Homo sapiens: one gene and its partners. The protein of the gene in region 1 interacts with the protein of each later gene in a pairwise test. Each region holds a gene or a part of one and is shown on either strand. Other genes may lie near its edges.

The links. Proteins that work in one complex are often made in the same cells at the same time.
Region 2: the proteins of NDUFS1 (region 1) and PCMT1 interact in binary tests that used the Homo sapiens proteins (3 or more experiments, as listed by UniProt).
Region 3: the proteins of NDUFS1 (region 1) and THAP3 interact in binary tests that used the Homo sapiens proteins (3 or more experiments, as listed by UniProt).
Region 4: the proteins of NDUFS1 (region 1) and BOD1 interact in binary tests that used the Homo sapiens proteins (3 or more experiments, as listed by UniProt).

The regions. Positions count from the first base shown.
Region 1 is NC_000002.12:206,117,945-206,121,444, reverse strand, and holds part of NDUFS1 (NADH-ubiquinone oxidoreductase 75 kDa subunit, mitochondrial isoform 1 precursor), read left to right. Parts: 3' UTR 1-3,500.
Region 2 is NC_000006.12:149,791,241-149,794,740, forward strand, and holds part of PCMT1 (protein-L-isoaspartate(D-aspartate) O-methyltransferase), read left to right. Parts: intron 1-2,308; coding exon 2,309-2,429; intron 2,430-3,500. UniProt on the Homo sapiens protein: Initiates the repair of damaged proteins by catalyzing methyl esterification of L-isoaspartyl and D-aspartyl residues produced by spontaneous isomerization and racemization of L-aspartyl and L-asparaginyl residues in aging peptides and proteins.
Region 3 is NC_000001.11:6,630,965-6,634,062, forward strand, and holds the end of THAP3 (THAP domain-containing protein 3), read left to right. Parts: intron 1-1,405; coding exon of another isoform or gene 1,406-1,426; coding exon 1,427-1,531; intron 1,532-1,831; coding exon 1,832-2,113; 3' UTR 2,114-2,598; downstream 2,599-3,098. UniProt on the Homo sapiens protein: Component of a THAP1/THAP3-HCFC1-OGT complex that is required for the regulation of the transcriptional activity of RRM1.
Region 4 is NC_000005.10:173,610,151-173,613,650, reverse strand, and holds part of BOD1 (biorientation of chromosomes in cell division protein 1), read left to right. Parts: intron 1-395; coding exon 396-520; exon of another isoform or gene 521-524; intron 525-3,500. UniProt on the Homo sapiens protein: Required for proper chromosome biorientation through the detection or correction of syntelic attachments in mitotic spindles.

The DNA.
Region 1 (3,500 bases):
TAATACCTCCTCTGGGATAAGTAGTGCTCCGTCTGTCTCATGGGCACATATTAGTGTCGTAATGCCAAATACTAAGGTTATTGTAAGCATAAACATTGAAGATAATTGCTAGAGAAAAATAGACTGAAAAAGATGTAAGAAAAATACACGTAGATGAGAGTAACCTGTCTGGTGGAATCATGACATTCTAAGCAGTGAAGGAATCACCAATGAGAAAATCTACAAAGGCTCAAGATCAAGTCTCTTTAGGTGAATAAGGCAATCTAGAAAGACCTTGGAATAATAATACCATTTCCTGAGGACCTTCTAAATAAGTGCCATTAAAGCTTTAAATACATTAAGACTATTCTTCACAAAATCTCTGCTAATAGTAGGTATTAATTGAGACTCAAGAAATATCAAATAACTTATTTATGGCTACACAGCTAGATACTAATGGCAGGAGTGTTTAATTAGAAGTACTTTTACTATCCCAGGTTGCCTCAAATGAAAACATTTTGGACAGCAATGTAAGGTGAATAGCTGAGCATGATGGCACAAGCTATAGCCCCAGCTACTTGGGAGGCTGAGGCACAAGGATTGCTTGAGCAAATGAGTTGAGTCCAGCATGGACAACTGTATTCCTGCAGCCTGCTTGTATTCCTCTCCTCAAAGTGCTTTTTCCTTCTCTGCCACATGACTAGTCTGTGAATTTTCCAAACTTCTACGCTCTGCTTCCCTTTTAAATATGTTCCAACTTTAAGTTATTTCTTTGCTTCCATATCTGATTGTAGGCTGCTAGCATCAGCCAGGCCACATCTTGAATGCTTTGCTGCTTAGAAATTTCTTCTGCCAGATACCCTGATACCCTAAGTCATCACTCTTAAGTTCAAACTTCCACAGATTCCTAGGGCCTGGACACAATGCACCCAAGCTATTTGCTAAAGCATGACATAGATGTACCTTTATTCCTGTTCCCAATAACTTCCTCATTTCCATCTGAGACCTCATCACTCTGGACTTCACCATATGTCTATCAGCATTTTGGTCACAACCACTTAACTAGTCTCTAAGTTCCAAACTTTCCCTCATCTTTCTGTCTTCTGAGCCCTCCAGATTCTTCCAACCTCTGCCTGTTACCCAGTTCCAAAGCTGTTTCTACATTTTCCAATATGTATAGCAGTGCCCCACTGTCAGTACTAATCTGTTTTAATCTGTTTGCATTACTGTAAAGGAATATCTGAGATTGGGTAATTCTTGCAAAAGAGAGATTTAATTGGCTTACAGTTTCTGCAGGCTGTACACAAAGCATGGCACCAGCAGCTGCTTCTGATGAGGGCCTCAGGAAGCTTACAATCATGGTAGAAGGCAAAATGGGAGCGAGCATATCACATGGTGAGAGAGGGAGCAAGAGAGAGGAGGAGGTCCCAGACTCTAAACAACCAAATTTCACATGAACTAAGATCTCACTCATCACCAAGGTGATGGTGCCAAGCCATTCATGAAGGATTTGCCCCATGATTCTATACCTCCCACGAGGCCCTACCTCCAGCATTGGGGGTTACATTTCAACATGAGATTTGGAAGTGACAGCCATCCAAACCATATCAGCAACATAACAAGACCCCCAACTCTTAAAAAAAAAAGTTGAATATATATCCAAAAATATCTTGAATTCCATATGGAAAGCCTCCCCCCTCAAATTTGTAGTAAATTGTATTATAATGAATACATTAATTAAAAATATACTTGGCCTGGCACAGTAGCTCAAGCCTGTAATCCCAGCACTTTGGGAGGCCGAGGCAGGCGGATCACCTGAGGTCAGGAGTTTTCGAGACCAGCCTGTCCGACATGGTGAAACTCTGTCTCTACTAAAAATACAAAATTAGCCAGCCATGGTGGCATATGCCTGTAATCCCAGCTACTCACTCAGGAGGCTGAGGCAGGAGAATCACTTAAACCCAGGAGACGGAGGTTGCAGTGAGTCAAGATTGCACCGTTGCACTCCAGCCTGGGTGACAGAGTGAGACTCTGTCTGAAAAAAAGTAAAAATTAAAAAATATATTTGACAATACCCAGTACCAATTTATTGTTTGTTGTTGACATTAACATTTTCTTTAAGAGTATTTCTTCATCTGTAAAATGAGGATAAAAATTGTAAAATTGTACCTACTTCCAGCCTCATAGAATTGTTTTGATGATTACATCAGAAAGCTTGTAAAAACCTTAGGCCTGTTTCCTGACATATACTAAATGCCCCATGTGCTAACTGAGGATGATCATTGTAGGAAAATTTCATAGACTATGAGGGAAAGCCATGCCTAAAATAATCTCCAGCTTATTAAGAAGTGCATTCCTTTTTGTTTCTTTGTTTTATCTTAGATTGAGTCTCACTGTATTGCCAGTCTGGAGTGCAGTGGCGCAATCTCAGCTCACTGCAACCTCCACCTCCTGGGTTCAAGCGATCCTCCTGCCTCAGCCTCCTGAGTAGCTGGGACTACAGGAGCACACCACCACGCCCAGCTAATTTTTGTGTTTTTAGTAGAGGCGGGGTTTCACCATGTTGGGCAGGATGGTCTCAAACTCCTGACCTCAGGTGATCCACCCGCCTCAACCTCCCAGAGTGCTGGGATTACAGGCGTGAGCTATCCGTGCCCAGTCAATTTTTGTATTTTTAGTAGAGATGAGGTTTCACCATATTGGTCAGGCTGGTCTTGAACCCCTGACCTCAGGTGATTCACCCGCCTCAGCCTCCCAAAGTGCTGGGATTCCAGATGTGAGCCAGCGCACCCAGCCTGGCCATCTTTTATAAAAAGATGAAGATGTCAGAATTCCCTAATAAGATTCTGGCTCTGTTACCCAGACTGGAGTGCAATGCATGGCATGATCTCAGCACACTGCAACCTCCATCTCCTGGGCTCAAGCCATCCTCCCACTTCAGTCTCCCAAGTGGCTGGGACTACAGGCACACGCCACCACACCTGGCTAATTTTTGTATTTTTTGTAGAGACGAGGTTTCGCCATGTTACCCAGGCTGGTCTTAAACTCCTGAGTTCAAGTGATCCACCTGCCTCAGCCTCCCAAAGTGCTGGGATTACAGGCATGAGCCACTGTACCCGGCCCCTAATAAGTTTTAAATAACCAATATTTTAAAATATTTTAATAGTTACATAGCACTTTAGTTTGCTGATTTAATTTATCCCAAGGGACAAGGATGTTAATGAGAAAACTGACTAGATTTCAGATCACAGATTTTAAGAGAACAAGGATCTCAAAACCAAATACCCTCTGCTTAAAGTGTTTTTTGTGTTTTTCACTACTGAAAATGTTTAGAGATTGACTTACCTATTGCTGATACTCAAAACATCTGATATCTTAATATTTTTAAATAACTCACTAAAAGCATATGTTGAAAATGGCAATGTATAGTCTGAGACTGGTGATTAGACTGGACTAAAAGCATATGTTGGAAATGGCAAATATATGATCTGAGACTGGTGATTAATTTACAGTATTGGCAC
Region 2 (3,500 bases), on another chromosome or scaffold:
AGAATGAGCCTGGTTTCTAAACATTCCTGCAGATTTACCAGGATGAAGGTAAAACTTCTGCATTAGAAAAAGTGCTCTTAGAAAAATAATGCCTTGTTATACTTCTGCCTTTTCTCATCAGAGTCTTATCTGGTCAATGGCTATCCAGAGTATTAACTGGGGACCCACTAATATATGTTGGAGTAAAGGTTGATCATTGCTTAGATCATCACATCAGTTTGATTTGAGAAATATCGTGCCTGGAGGACAGATTGGAATATTCTGATCTAGTTAAATTGGGAGTTGTGGATCCACCTTGGACTAGAATCCATGTAACTTGCTATAAATGTATAATCAGCAGACTTACTAGAATGTAAGCTCCAGGGAGTTGGAAATTTTGTCTGCTCTTTTTTATCATGATGGTATCCTAAACATCTAAAACAATGCCTGGCACATAATAAGGACTCATATTTTCTCAGATGTTTTGCTCATTTTGTAGAGGTTAAGTCCTCATTAATGGATATCAGTGATTTTTTTTAAGGTTAGAAATGCCATTTAATAAATGACTCATTCTCTATACTTGACATGTTTATAGTTTTAGAGGATGTATTCATTTTAAAAAATCATTTGGTTTCTGAGTTGTTTTTCATAAAATGGCATTAATGTTTTTCACACATTTACCATGTGTGAAAGTACTTTGTGTTTTAAGCACTAGAGCCTGTGTTCTAAGTGCTACCCCATTTTTATGATGGGGTTTATGCCTTTTTCCTCCCCATTTTGTACTGAGGAACCTGATTCATACAAGGAATGATAGGCCGGGTGTGGTGGCTCACGCCTGTAATCCCAGCACTTTGGGAGGCCGAGGCAGGTGGATCACCTGAGGTCTGGAGTTCGAGACCAGCCTGGCCAACATGGTGAAACCCCGTCTCCACTAAAAATACAAAAATTAGCTGGGTGTGGTGGCACACGCCTGTAATCCCAGCTATTTGGGAGGCTGAGGCAGGAGAATTGCTTGAGCCCGGGAGACAGAGGTTGCAGTGAGCTGAGATCACGCCACTGTACTCCAGCCTGGCCAACAAAGCGAGACTTTATCTCAAAAAAAAAAGAAGGAACGGTTAACTTGCCAAGGTATGTATGTATGTAAGTGATGACACTTAGACAAGAACCCAGATAGTTTGACTTCAAAGCCTTTATGTGTTAATTTTTTAAATTTTTATATTTTTTCTTGAAACATTTATACTTAATATTTTAATTTACAAATAAATATGCAAAGAAGGGATTTTTGTTGTTGTTGCTTTTTGTTTGTTTTCTGAGACAGGGTCTCAGTCTGTCATCCAGGCTGGAGTGCAGTGGCACGATCTCAACTCACTGCAGCCTCTGCCTCCCAGGCTCAAGTGATCCTCACACCACATCAGCCTCCTAAGTAGCTGGGACTTAGGAGGCACATGCTACCACACCTGGCTAGTTTTTGTATTCTTTTGTAGAGATGGGGTTTTGCCATGTTGCTCAGGCTGGTCTCAAACTCCTGGGCTCAAGCAGTCTACCTGCCTCTGCCTCCCAAAGTGCTGGGATTATAGGTGTGAGCCACTGTATATATTTTCATGTTTTCTACTAAAAGCAGTAGAAACAAGTGTAGAAATTCCTTCCCATCAGGCGGGAGGCAGGGTGTGTGGTGGCTCAGTCCTGTAATCCCAGCACTCTGGGAGGCCAAGGCGGGCAGATCACGAGGTCAGGAATTTGAGACCAGCCTGACCAACGTGGTGAAACCCTGTCTCTACTAAAAATACAAAAAAATTAGCTGGGCATGGTGGCGGGGGCCTGTAGTCCCAGCTACTCAGGAGGCTGAGGCAGGAGAATTGCTTGAACCTGGGAGGCAGAGGTTGCAGTGAGCTGAGATCGTGCCACTGTACTCCAGCCTGGGTGACAGAGCGAGACTCTCTCTCAAAAAAAAAAAAAAAGAAATTCCTCCCTGTCAAATTCTTTATGTAACATTTTAATATTTAAAGTTATACTTTAGATGGAATTTAAATAAAAAATTATTGTACTACTATTAAATATTGGTAATTTTCTTCAAAGTTCTAGATTTAATCTAAGAAAGATATAATTTTTCTTAGTATTACAAGTTTTATTCAATGAGAGTGATAGTTGAGAAAGTTGTATATATGGTAAATAATTTATGATAAACTGAGTGTTTAGCAATCTATAGAAGCCTTAAGCTATTTTTGTTTTCTCTTTGTAGAATATGACTTTCGATAAGGAAAAACTTCAATAATACTTTAGAAAAACAAATTTAGCCCAATGAGCTACTGAATTGTTTTCTCTTTTCCAGGTTGGATGTACTGGAAAAGTCATAGGAATTGATCACATTAAAGAGCTAGTAGATGACTCAGTAAATAATGTCAGGAAGGACGATCCAACACTTCTGTCTTCAGGGAGAGTACAGCTTGTTGGTAAGTATCAGAAAACTTTAAAAATTTCTTCAGAGGATTTTTATTTTCAGAAGATCCAATGCAAGCTAAATAATACTCAGAGGTAATTATTGTATTTTTTTTTACAATCACTTTTAAGTACTAAAAAATAAAAACGATTATTTTTGCTCACCTAGTGTGTATTTTGCAGCCATCTCTTTGTGAGTTTAATTTTGTATTTTCCTATTAACCTCTGAGATTGAATTTTTTGTAATGTGTCTGACCATTAGGATTTTGTCTTTTGTGAAGTACCTGTTCAGATATTGGATTGCTTGTATTTTTGACTTACAGGGCTTCTAGCCCTTTGTCTATATATATAAATACATTTCTTCTCCCATCTGAGGTGTGCCTTTTCATCTTATTGGTACCCTTTTGATAATAGAAATTCTTAATTTTAATGTAGTCAGACTTACCAATTTTTTTCAGTGCTTTCTGTGTCCTTTTTAAGGATACTCTGAGACCATGAAGATATGTCTCTTATTATTTCTTAGAACCTTTATCATTTTTAGCTTTTCATGTTTAGGTTTTTGATCTTCCTGATGTTGGTTTTTGTGTATGTGTGAGGTAAAGGTGCAGTTATATGTTTTTGTGTATGAATATCCAGTTGTATTCCCCAGACACACTCAGTTTTGTTTAAAAGATAAAATATTGGCCAGGAGCGGTGGCTCACACCTGTAATCCCAGCACTTTGGGAGGCTGAGGTGGGCAGATCATGAGGTCAAGAGTTTGAGACCAGCCTGACCAACATGGTGAAACTCCGTCTCTACTAAAAATACAAAAATAAGCTGGGCGTGGTGGCGCACGCCTGTAGTCCTAGCTACTCGGGAGGCTGAGGCAGGAGAATCGCTTGAACCCGAGAGGTGGAGGTTGCAGTAAGCTGAGATCGCACCACTGAACTACAGTCTGGCGACAGAGCTAGAGTCCGTCTCAAAAAAACAAATAAAATAAAATAAAGGCCCGGGCAGCTCTAGTAGCCACAGCCATCCCCTAGAGGGATCTGGCTGAGGAGGAAGTGGAGGTGTTGCTTGCCTTGGCCTTTGCCCTGATCCTGTG
Region 3 (3,098 bases), on another chromosome or scaffold:
TCCCAAAGTGCTGGGAGTATAGATGTGAGTCACTGCACCCAACCTTTTTCTTTGTTTTTGAGACAGGGTCTCACTCTGTTGCTCAGGCTCTGTACAGTGGTGCAGTCATGGCTCGCAGCAGCCTCAACCTCCCAGGATCAAGCCATCCTCCCACCTGAGCCTCCCAAGTGGCTGGGACCACAAGCATGTGCTACCATGCCCAGCTAATTAAAAATTTTTTTTTTTTTTTTTTTTAGAAATGGGGGTCTTGCTATCTTGCCCAGTCTGGTCTCAAACTCTTGGATTCAGGGGATTCTCCTGCCTTGGCCCCACAAAGTGCTGGAATTATAGGCGGGAGCCACCGCACCTGGCCGTGCCTGATTTCTTAAAGTTCAGTTCCAGGGCCGGGCGAGGTGGCTCACGCTTATAATCCCAGCAGTTTGGGAGGCTGAGGCGGGTGGATGTCTTGAGGCTAGGAGTTTGAGACCAGCCTGGCCAACATAGTAAAAACCCCATCTCTACTAAAAATATAAAAATTAGCCGGGCTGGGCGCAGTGGCTTGCGTCTGTATTCCCAGCACTTTGGGAGGCCGAGGCAGGCGGATCACCTGAGGTTAGGAGTTCGAAACCAGCCTGGCCAACATGGTGAAACTCCATCTCTACTAAAAATACAAAAATTCGGCTGGGCCTGGTGGCTCACACCTGTAATCCTAGCACTTTGGCAGGCTGCGGCAGGTGGATTGCCTGAGGTCAGGAGTTCGAGACCAGCCTGGCGAAACCCCGTCTCTACTAAAAATACAAAAATTTAGCTGGGCATGGTGGTGGATGCCTATAATCCCAGCTACTCTGGAGGAGAATCACTTGAACCCAGGGGGCGGAGGTTGCAGTGAGCTGAGATCGCACCACTTCACTCCAGCCTGGGTGAAAGAGTGAAACTCCATCTCAAGAAAAAAAAAAATTAGCCAGGTGTAGTGGCATGTGCCTGTAGTCCCAGCTACTCAGGAGGCTGAGGCAGAATTGGTTGAACCCGGGAGGCAGAGGTTGCAGTGAGCCGAGATCATGCCACTGCACTCCAGCCTGGGTGACAGAGTTAGATTCCGTCTCAAAAAAAAAAAAAAAAAAATTTAGCCAGGCGTGGTGGCACATGCTTGTAATTCTAGCTACTCAGGAGGCTGAGGCACGAGAATCACCTGAACCCTGGGGGTGGAGGTTGCAGTGAGCCGAGATTGCACCACTGCACTCCAGCCTAAGTGACAGAGCGAGACTGTCTCAAAAAAAAAAAAAAGTTCAGTTCCAGGGTGTGTGCTAGGGAGAAGCTGGCTGTGGAGGGGCACAGACCCTGGAGCTGGTCCCTGGCTGTTGCCACTCCCCTAGAGGGACAAGTAGCAGCTGCAGGAGGGCCCTGCATGTGCAGGGCTGTAGTGCAGACTTCACCCTGCCGTTCCCAGGTCCTCCCTGAGGCGGGGGCCGGAGAGGACAGTCCTGGGAGAAACATGGACACTGCACTTGAAGAGCTTCAGTTGCCCCCAAATGCCGAAGGCCACGTAAAACAGGTAAGACTGAGTGCAAAGGTGGTCTGTGGTTGGACACAAGATGACTTGCTCCAAACAAAATGGAAACCAGTGAGCACCCACCATGAGACCTGTGTGGCCGAGGCAGGGTGTGCAGCCTGGGTTTCAGAGCTCCCCAGTCAAATTCTCCACCATGGTGTGGGCACATCTGGATTTTGGGGGAGCAGCCCGGAGTGTCTAGCTGCCCTGGGGTTGTGCTGTGTGCGTGTCTGGTGGCCTGCTCACCATGGCCCGCCTTCCTGCTGGTGATGCAGCTCTAGGCTCTCACTCCCCTGTCCTCAGGTCTCGCCACGGAGGCCGCAAGCAACAGAGGCTGTTGGCCGGCCGACTGGCCCTGCAGGCCTGAGAAGGACCCCCAACAAGCAGCCATCTGATCACAGCTATGCCCTTTTGGACTTAGATTCCCTGAAGAAAAAACTCTTCCTCACTCTGAAGGAAAATGAAAAGCTCCGGAAGCGCTTGCAGGCCCAGAGGCTGGTGATGCGAAGGATGTCCAGCCGCCTCCGTGCTTGCAAAGGGCACCAGGGACTCCAGGCCAGACTTGGGCCAGAGCAGCAGAGCTGAGCCCCACAGGCTCCGGACGCAGAGGTGGCAGTGGCACCAGGGCCGGCAGAGCTTTGGAGCTCTGGCTGTGGACATTTTTGTCTGCTGTGGACACTGAGAAAGTTGGCCATGAGGCCTGCTTGGCCGGGGATCGAGACAGTAGCCAAGCTCCCCGGCGAGAGCCCCAATGCCGTCTGGGGGACGTTTAGAGGCGTGGCACTAGGAGTGCACATCTGTGAGCATGACAAGCTTATCCTCCCATGGTAACAGAAGTCCAGGCTGAGGCTGATTCTGGACGCTGTCCTTTCAGCACACGCAGAGCAAAGATCGTTGGAAGCCCCAGTGTGGGAGATGCTCCTCAGGGAGGAAGCCATGTGAGGGGGCTGGCTCTGTGGCGGGTGAGTGGTCCCCTCCTCCATCAGCCTGGACAGCCGCTCGGGGTTCTAAGGAGTGACTCCTGTCCCGGCCTGGTGTGAGTGGGCAGTGTAATAAAGTGTCTTTCTATACGGTGTCGCTCCCATCATCATTTTCTCTAGTGCCGTGATTCCTTCTAAGAAGACTGACTTCCGTGGCCGGGCGCAGTGGCTCATGCCTGTAATCCCAGCACTTTGAGAGGCCGAGGTGGGGAGATCACTTGAGGTCAGGAGTTCAAGACCAGCCTGGCCAACATGGTGAAATCCCATGTCTACTAAAAAAGACACAAATTAGCCAGGCGTGGTGGCACACACCTGTAGTCCCAGCTACCTGGGAGGCTGAGACAGGAGGATCAGCTGAACCCGGGAGGTGGAGGTTGCAGTGAGCCGAGATCACACCACTGCCCTCTAGTATTGTCACTGGGTGACAGAGCGAGACTCAGTCTGAAAAAAAAAACTGACTTCCTATTTTGTCTAATTTATAGCTTTAGTGAATTAAAGAAAAAAGTTCTAGCCTGATTTCCTAACTTGGGGTCTATTTATTTCTCAGGCAATGTTGTTTAATGTAGAAAATGGAACCCCAGCTTCACGTG
Region 4 (3,500 bases), on another chromosome or scaffold:
GCAGCTTATAACCAGCACTTGTTCACATGTTCATGGGGCGGCAGGTCTACCAAAGTTCAGCTGAGCTAGGAAGGCTTCAGCTGGTGGCTTGGCTGCAGGCTGCCCAGGTGTGGGTCCAGGCTGTGGGTTGATGTCAGGCCTGCTGCATGTAGAGTTACTTAAAAGCAAATGGAATAATATAAGTAAAGCGCCTGGCATTGTGCCCACCCACCATCAGGTGGGCACTTGTGTTAACCATTAATTCCTGACTGCCACATTGCATGGTGATCTTCATGCACAGTGGAAGTGTATTTAGACTTAATAACGTTTCTGTGAAAAGCAGTGTTCTGAGAGACTAAGTTCAAAACTTTGGTGCATATAACTTCTGACCTTGCCTCCTCTTTTTAACATTTTAGCCAGCTTACCAAAACCTGAGGCAGAAAGTGGATAATTTTGTGTCAACACATCTGGACAAGCAGGAATGGAATCCTACGATGAACAAAAACCAGTTGCGAAATGGTCTGAGGCAGAGTGTGGTTCAGTAAGTAAGCAGAATTTAAAGCTTTTGAAAAGGCAGTCATCACAAGTGTGATGCACAAGAAGGTTGAGGTCTCTGTTTAGTCAAGGTTGATGGGACTTTATATCAAGTATCACTTAGGAGTTGCAGCAGTCTGCTCTTTTGTTATAATTAAGGTTAAAGGAAGCAAAGTACTCAGTTGAAATTCCAGTTTCTGCAGCCTGTGAAGGCCTCCTGTGTGCATCTCTACTGGGTGCATCAAAAGGCATTCCAAATCGTGAGACATTTTCCCTGCTCTTTGAAGTTTCAGTGTTGTCCAAACATATATGTGAGTTTTATACCAAGATATCAGGGTTTGGATCTTGGGCAAGAGGAGTTGGATCTTTATTCTCACAGGTGAATGTGAACTAAATAAATTCTTTGAGTCCACCAGGACTGCCACCTCTAAAGTGTAATGGTGACAGCTTTCAGGAAGGCATAGTCTTAATAAAGTATCGTACTTCACAGTAACAAACTGAACCTTAGTTAATAAAGGTGCTATTGATAGCTTATCTGAGTGACGCACAAAAGTGGAGGTGGAGGAGGGTACAGAAATGGGAGAACACATTAGTGATTGCCTGGGGTTACGGATGGGAGGAGGGGGTGAGTGTGACTTGCAAGTGGTAGCACAAGGGGGAGCTTGCAATGGTGCAGTTAAGTGTCACTGAATTGTGCTGTGCTCACGTGCAACAGCTCGTATGGTAAAGTCGCACGGAGCTACACACACAAATAAGTGCAAGTGTAACTGAAGTCTAAATAAGGTCTGGATTGGACCAGTGTCATTTTCCTGGTTTTGATATTGCACTAGTTACGCAAGGTGCTGACATTAGAGCTGGCTGGGTGAAGGGTGCGTGTGGAACTCCCTGGACTCTTCTTCACAACTTCCTGTGAATATGCAGCGATTTTAAGATTTCTAAAGTTTTTAAAAGTGTTTTACTAACAAGCTAGTACTTCCAATATGGCTGAATGCTGGGAAGAAGCCTGATAGCAGAAGATGCCCAGTGCCTTGTCATTCTGGAGTCAGTACCGAGTGCCTTTCCCTTTCTCCAGAGAACAGACTGGTGGCACCGGGCTCTTTCAGAAAGAAGGGGACAGTAGCTGCCCCTTACTGAGCAACTCTTTATTACATGTCTGGCACTGGTCTTTACATATATCACTCATCCTCATGAAAAGCCTGTTTCACAGCTAAAGTCACTTGTGTTTACCCTGTCTTGAGTAAATCAAAACACTGAACATTCTGAAATATTTGGAAAGTTGCCATGATTGTATGAAGGCTGTTAACATTGCTTTGATTTCTGTAATGAGCATGGATGTCATTCTAGAGGTATGCATGTGGCGCTTCCTCTTGCATTTCTTTAGTAGGAATTGTAATACGGAAAAGTGCACAGAAGTTCAGTGAAACAGATAATTAGAACATCCCTTGATCACCCAGATCGAGAAATGGACTCACACCCCCGAAACAGCCTAGCTCCGGATGTACTTTCCTCCTTTCGGAAGTTTTCCATATTCCTGACTTTTATACTAATCATTTCCTCTCTGCATAGTTTTTACCACCTCTGTGAAGTTGTTGTTTTTTTTTTTTTCCCTGCTTTTTGATTTGACTTAGAATGTGTTTAACCTGAAAACATGAACTTGGCTTTAATACTGGGACATTTCTCCACAATTCTTGCTAGCATTTTGAATTTGAGGCAAAATCTACTGGAGTTTCGAAACGCAGACTTTCTGCTTGCCCCCAGGTGCTCTCCCCAGGTGGACACTGCAGGCCTTCAGAGCATTGGCTCACTGGCCTGGCTGTTCTGGCCCAGATGCTGTAACCCAGTGCCACAGCCTAGAGGGTTTAACAGGAAATTAGCCTGTGCTATTGCACTGAATTATGACGAATAACTCTTGTAACTGTACAATATTTGTTTTTTCCATCTTGTACATTGGGCTCCTGACAAGATTTTATGTTTTCCTCAAAAGTTTAAGAATCTCCAGGAAAGTGAGCTGCACTCCCTTGGTAGTTTGTTTCCCCTGATCAGGGGTTTTGGTCAGTTGGGGATGCTTTAACAAGGCGCCGTAGACTAGGTGGCTTGTAAACAATGGAAATTTACTTCTCACCATTCTGGAGGCTAGAAGTCCAAGACCAAGATGCCAGCATGGTCAGGTTCAGGGGAAGGCCTTCTTGCAGGCAGCAGACTGCCAACTGCTTGTTCTTCTCATGTGGTGGAAAGAGAGCTCGCTAACTTCCTGGGGTCCCTTTTGTAAGGGCATAAATTGCATTCGCGGAGGCTCTGCCCCCATGACCCGATCGCCTCCCAAAGGCCCTACCTCCAAAGGCCATCACATTAAGGATTAGATTTCAACATAGGAAGTCTGGGGGACACAGGCATTTAGTTGATAATATCAAGCTTTTACATCTGGTAAAGGACCCTGTGAATCCGACTCAGGAAGTGGTTTGGTAAAGTTGGAAAGGTATTGGCTTGTGACTGAGGAGAGGTGGCTTTCCTTTGTTAGCATCCCATAGCCGGATGCTAACTTTGCTGTATTTAACGATGCTCATCACTAAGGGCCGATACTGTCTAATGCCTGGTCTACCTGAAAATGTGCCCTTCAGTGCTCTAGTGGTGGTGTATTTACATCTAGGCTTCCTGTCGATAAGCTGTTAGTTACCATTGAATCCAGGGAGCACTTTACACACTAATCATCTTTCCCAGTTCACAGCCTGTTTCTTATCTTCTTTGTCATGATGTACATTTACTCATGTCTTTCCTTTGCTGTACCCTGACAGACCATTTGCCCACTTGCTGCCCAGCCTATTTTTACCCGAAGGCTTAAATGGCCTCTGAAGTCTCAAGTCTACGGGAAAATAAGTAAAACCTGCCCACATGCTTGTGATGGTATTGGAATATTTCAGTCCTTTGAGAAGAACACTTCACTTTGAACCTTACGGGCTATTTTCCAGACTGTCCAAATATGATTTGTT